Homo sapiens: one gene and its partner. The protein of the gene in region 2 purifies or fractionates together with the protein of the main gene of each other region. This does not show direct contact. Each region holds a gene or a part of one and is shown on either strand. Other genes may lie near its edges. The genes, in order: TPPP and PCTP.

Evidence for each region.
Region 1: the proteins of PCTP (region 2) and TPPP purify together in Homo sapiens (affinity purification with mass spectrometry; one large-scale study listed by BioGRID and IntAct). This does not show direct contact.

What each region holds. Positions count from the first base shown.
Region 1 is NC_000005.10:659,199-662,516, forward strand, and holds the end of TPPP (tubulin polymerization-promoting protein), read right to left. Parts: 3' UTR 664-3,318; downstream 1-663.
Region 2 is NC_000017.11:55,775,051-55,778,201, reverse strand, and holds the end of PCTP (phosphatidylcholine transfer protein), read right to left. Parts: intron 2,892-3,151; coding exon of another isoform or gene 2,859-2,891; exon of another isoform or gene 2,168-2,858; coding exon 2,102-2,167; 3' UTR 828-2,101; downstream 1-827. UniProt on the Homo sapiens protein: Catalyzes the transfer of phosphatidylcholine between membranes. Binds a single lipid molecule.

The DNA of each region.
Region 1 (3,318 bases), on a different chromosome or scaffold from region 2:
GAGCGCGAGGCGCGCGTCCCTCTCCATGCTCCTGTTCTGCTCACCTGTGGGGGTTCCCAAGTATTTTTATGAAACATTTTAATCTCACAAAGTATTGATATAGCCACTGTTAATTTGGAGTTATTGACCTATTTATTCTCTTTGCTCCACTTTCTTCACAAACCAGACATGCCATTTGAGATCACCTTTGCTTTCTGCATTTAGAATTTCTTTAAATGTCTGCTGGTGGCAAATTCTCTTTTCATTGTCCAAAAATGCCTTTATTGTATCCTCATTTTGGAAAACTGTTTCGCTGGGCTAGTATCTCAGGTTGGCATTTTTTTTATAGCAGCCTGTGATGACATTGTCCTGTTTTGGGGGCTCTGGTGGTGTTCACAGTGTTCATGTCCATTCCCCTTGAATCTAGACCCCACCCAGGGCTACACCAGTGCTAGAGCAGGACTCACACCTGACAGATGGCTGGTCCGCCTGCTCCTCCTTCACGGTCCTCCTGTCTAGATGAGGAAGCGAGAGACTCCCTCGGGAAAAGGCGACACAAGGGCCTTGGCCCTGTGAGCTTCAGCCCAGTGGAGGCACTCAGCACACTCCCCACCTGGGGCCCCTCCAGTACCTATCCCCTGTTATCACCTGTTACAGACACGTGTGCTCTGAGGAACAGAGAAATCCATGTTTTAACACCTTTATTTGTCACTTTACCAACTTGACACACAATGTTAACGACAGCAGACACAGGAGCAGTGTGCACACAGACACGAGCTGTTTCACTACAGGTTTGCAAGCCAGGCTCAACAGCAAGTCCAACAGGCAACACCACACCTCTCACCTGCAGGAGGAACAGCAGGGCCACCCCACCCCGCGGACGTCCGCGGTGAGTGCGGTTTAGACATCAGCAGAAGTGGCTTTCAGAGTCAGAACAGCCATGACGTGGACATCACCCGTCACACTGATAAAGTGATGCACTCAGTACTCCCTAATGTTAATCACACAGTGTAAAAATATATTGCACATATATATATATATATATATATATAAATTTGTTTCCCTTTCTTGAAAAAAACTTAGTACAAACTAGTAGTTACACGATCCCTTTCAAGTTTCTCTTAAGTTGTGCAGATTTCCTTTGTGGTTTGGCTTGGTTTAGTTTTTTAAGAGGTCGAAAGAAAGAAGTAAAGCATCTCGATGTGCCCAGGACTCCCCATCACATGCCCAGGGACAAACGCTGCACCCTGGACCACCAGAGCTCACAAAGTGTTCAGTAGTAAGAGGAGGAAAGATGCAGGTTCAGTGTTTGAAGGACGTTCTAGCCTATTGATAACATCACGGTCCAGCCTCATCTTCCCCCTGTGCCATCCCCTCGTGGTGTGTGCTGTGGGGTGGGAGGGTGGCCAGTGCACGCGTGATTGCCCACAGGAGGAGATGAGCTGGGCCAGTAGAGGGACAGGTAAGTGTCCAGGGCCAAGGCATCTCCATCTCAACTCCTCCCCACTCCACTTGTACAGCAGGAGCCACAGGCCTGTGTGAAAACACAGGACAGGCCCTGTGCCAACAAAACACCATTCACAAAAGCAGGCGGCCGCAGCAGCCCAGGATGGGGGCTGGGGTAGGAGGTGATGCCCACGCAGGGCTGCTGTGGTCAGCCCTGAGCTGGCATCCCTGGGGCCCGGGATGGAGTGGCACCAACAGGCAAGTGGGGCGGCCACAGGACATGATGCCAGCCCAACTCCACCATCTGCGCCCAAACTTGGACAGGATATTAGAAGGTGTAAAAGTAGTCCAGTATAAATATATATCTTCTACAATATTTTAAACATATAATTTGAACTTTAATTTTGGTAACGCTAATTGTTAGGAACACTACCTGGTTGCTTATCCTATAGCAGTAAATTAAAAATAAATAAGCACTCTGGCGTGAACAGTCTTCTCAGCGCTCTCCCTCTGCCTTTCTCCTTTCCTGATGCTGAGACACGATCAGCACTGTCCTCCCGACAGAACCTATTCCTGTGTCCTGGTGTCACCCCCAACAGAACCTGTCCCTCTCTCCTGGTGTCACCCCTGACAGAACCTGTCCCTCTCTCCTGGTGTCACCCCCGACAGAACCTGTCCCTGTCTCCTCTTGTCACCCCCAACAGAACCTGTCCCTCTCTCCTGGTGTCACCCATGATAGAACCTGTCCCTGTGTCCTCGTGTCACCCATGACAGAACCTGTCCCTGTGTCCTGGTGTCACCCCCGACAGAACCTGTCCCTGTGTCCTGGTGTCACCCCTGACAGAACCTGTCCCTCTCTCCTGGTTTGCAGGTTGTGCAGTTTGTTATTCACAAATACACATTTATTTTCTGTTGAACCGTGGTTAGTAGAAGCTAATTGGCAGTGCATAAAAACATGCAGAAGAGAACACACACCTGCCTGAATTCACAATATTCAGAAACTGACTGAGGAAGATGCACGGGTCTGTTATGTGCAGTGGGGCTGCCGTCCAAACAATGTTCTGTGTTCGGAGGCGGCACACAGATGCAATTACGGATTCCACAGACAAGTTGTAACTGACAGTGGTGACCACTATGTCCTCGTGACTTTATTTTTGCTACCCCTCCTGGCTAGGTGACAGAGATGGGAGCCGAGTGGGTGTTTTCAAAGATTCGCTTTGGAGCTGAGTGGAGAAGGGTGCTCTCCTGGCTCCCGCATGTCTGAGAAAAGCCTGAGGGCCGCTGGGGGAGGGCGTGCCTCTAACTCGTGGGCACCAACCCTGGAAGTGTGGAGGGAGAGTGGGGGCGTGGGGCCTCTCCCTCCAGGATCCCAGGGTGCTCCAGGCCAGGACGGGCAGGGTGCCACAGCAGCCTCGATCTCATTCACGAAACCCACAGGCGTGGCCTAGGGTTTGGGATGCACGCCACGATTTTCTCTCTCAGAGTGAAGGGACCACTTCTGTGAATGAGCTCACCTCCAGGGGCCAAGATGGGAGCCATGAGCCCCGCCGCTCCGGCCACTCCAGCCAGGTCTGGGAAGGGCTGTGGTGAGTCGGTGCTGGCCGTGTGGGCGAGGTGACCCGTCGGTGACAGGGCCTGCTCCCTGCGAGGTCGGGTGGTGCCCGGGCCGGGCGGAGGCTCTTCTCGTGCTCAGGGCCGGTTTCTGGTGTGCTCCCGATGCGCTTGGCTCTTTTCTCGAGGCCGTGCTTGTCTGAGGCCAACCAGGGACCAGGAGGCAGCGTCCTGGTGCCCAGCACCTCTCCTCAGTGTCCCTCGTCCCCACAGACCGGATCAGGGCCTGGCGAGCCTCTGTGCCTGCCGTGCGGTGTGAGGACCCGCGGACCCCAACCCGCC
Region 2 (3,151 bases):
ACTTACTATAGCTCAAGAGTTTTCAGTTTCCTACATAACCTCAGCTCGTGAGGACTGTCCACTACTCTAAATTAGCAAGTAAAAATGCTAAAAAGTCTTAACTCCATTCATTACAGCAAACACTGTAACCTTTTAAAATAAGTACCTTACCTAGAAACTCAGCATTCTTAGTATTTTCAGAGTTCTTAGCAAATTATTTAATGTTATTTAAAGAAATGGTTTACATGACACCATTTCATGCCAATTCTCTTTCAGTGACTATAATCTCAGTGCTTTTATTTCAAATAATCTATTCATAAGATTTCAACTTGACTTCTATTAACAGGAAGTATTCAGATTTAGTTTATCTAGAATAGATTTCAGCTACATTATTGATAATGATATTTTAATGATAATTTTATGAGGCATTCACTTACTTGTATAATTCTATCCAGATGACCATAATGAGCAGGGCATAGATAAGCATATGTTTTAGAGGTGCTCTAAGTTATGGAAAGTGCAGGTCCTACTAGAAAGAAACATTGTCTTTTTTGTTTTGCTTGGCATGAGCCTAGGAAGATGCAAACCTACCTATTGCTGTTAGCGACAATGCTACCAGGAAATGCAGACCAATACTAAACGATCTGAATTCTAATCTCAGTTTGAGCACCTGTATTGATCCCTACATGAAGATACCTACACCTGATCATGCATATAAGTAAGCCCAAAATTATGTTTTATGTTTAAGTCTACAAATTAGGCTGAATATCACTTGCAAATAAAGGAGATCTAACTGATGCACACTCACAAAAGGAAGAAGGTAGGAAGGAAGTGGTACACAGGACAAGTAAAAACCACTCTATATTTATTCATTATAGAACACACTTTTCTTCCCAGAAAGAAAACAAACAGTCTGAGGTATCCCACATTAATAAATCCCATTCTGTGGCTTTACATCCTGAATTTCTGTTATTAATCAAGGTTCAGTATCATTATACACAGTGATTAAAATTTTTCCCTGAGATCATCAAGGCTGTGCCTTTGACATAGAAATACCTTACCCTACCAAAATTCAGGAGAAAGCATAGAAAACTAAAAGTCTTTTTGGTGGTAGAAAAGGCAGACAACTTAGGCAGAATTCCTGAGAAAAAGGTGCAGAGTCATTAAGCCACCAGTTAAATTTTACCTGGCTGTGAACTGTTATCCCTTCTACATTTCTAAATATTCTGGGAGGAAAATTCATCTTATTGCATAGAAAGATACTTTTTCACAAGGCTATGCACAAAGCATCTTTGCTTTTGCTAGCTGCCACAGCCATCTTGACGCCTCAGTTTCCAGTAAAATGCAAAGCTTGAGAGGTACAGGCAGCCTTTCCCCCAGTGACATATGGAAAAGAGAAATCATCCATTTCCTCATGGATGATGAGGAAAAATGTGGTTGTCATATTATGTGTCCGGTCAGGCCTCTGATACTTCTCCAAATGGTCTGGCATCATAACAGCTACTGATCCTCCACAAGTAGGAACGAGGAAAGACTTACTGGATTATCACCTCAAATCCCAGCCTAATCAGCTCCACAAAGCATAAGGCAAATGGACATTGGCACGTCATCCAGTTTGGGTGCACTGAAAGTCAGCTCTGAACGAAATGCCACTTCCAGCAGCCCCTCCCAAGCTGGAAGAAATCACAAGCTGCAAAAGAGCCAGCCCGCCCAAATAGTCATTCTTAAATTTTGTTGTGTCCCTCCGCCCACCCATCCCCGTAAAATTGCACAATGGAATGATCGTGTTCCCTACTGAAGACTTCCCCTCCTAATAGTAAGCAAGCAAAGGTTTCCCTAGTCTGCCCCATATTGAACTGTAGAAGAAGGCAGCCCAGCCCAGGATGGGGGGAGCGAGAAAGGAAGCAGACGAGTGAGCTGGATGTCAGGCAAACATGCTTAGAAAGGATGTGGTAGTGTGTAGGCCTCTGAAGACAGAAACAGCAGGGGAAGGCTGAACAGTGGTGGGTGCTCTTCCAGAGACACTTCCAGGTGGCACTTCCAGGTGGCACTTCCAGAGACATTGGGTGGTTGCACTTCCAGAGACATCAACCCATGGATGCAATGTTCCCAGTTCTCTTTCTTAGGTTTTCTTGAGGTAGTTCTGACAGGCTCTTGCCATGTCTTTCAAGAAGTTAGGAACTCCATTCTGCAAAGGAAATGAGACTGTCATTTCTATGTCTTCACAGTGGTCACTCTTGATTCTTTGGGATGTGGCAGAAGGTAAACAATGTTGGCTTTAGGACGAACAAAAATGAATAGGCTCCCTAACTGGATTTCAACAGAATGTTGTTGCAGATGATGACAAAAAGTAGGACTGAGGACAAAAGTAAGACCAGTCAACAGGAACTTCTGTTGCAAAAAGGCCTTATATGTTAGCTTTTTCTAGGAAAAAGCGAAGATGTTTCTGAAACAGTGTTTCTGGAAAAAAGAAAACACAAGAAATGGGCTTGGGCTGGATTGTTACATTCTTCCAAAGAAATGAAAGCACTTGCTTTACTGAATTAGAAAATGGTAAGGATTGGGGATCAAGGAGCAGGATATATTATTATTTAGTTAATGTTGAGCACTGGGCAAGACTTTTCCTAAATATTGTCTTATTTACTCCCCCTCTATGCAGTAGAAGACATCTATCTTCATTTTTAAAAAGGAAGAAATGCATGGCTTCCTTAAATAAAACAAGACAGTCAGTAGCAGAGCCAGGATTTGAAATTGCGTCTGTTTGACTCCAAAGTTGATGTGCTTTTTCACTCTTCCAAGGAATCTGTTGAGCTCTCTAGTAGTAGATCTTGTGCAAAGCAGGCTGATGGTCCCCATAATGCCAGGCTCCTGGGCAGTCTCTAGTGATACAAACTACCACTGCAGTTCCCTCCCTTATAGAGAAAAAGAAAAAAAAAAAAGGGCAACAACAACAAAAGTGGAAGCTTTCCTCAGGCTTGGACACATCTGGTTGTCTCCAAGCCAGGTCAGTCTGTCTTATTCCCCAGTAAGCAGAGGAATATAGGCTCCAAAGGCACTATTGTTCCTACTAAGAGCAGACTATTGTCCAGAAGTTCCAGAGAGTGATTCTGGCGGGGTCCTGGGGCACAAGCAGGGAGAGGCTGGCATTCCAAGCTGACAATTCTTTGTCTCT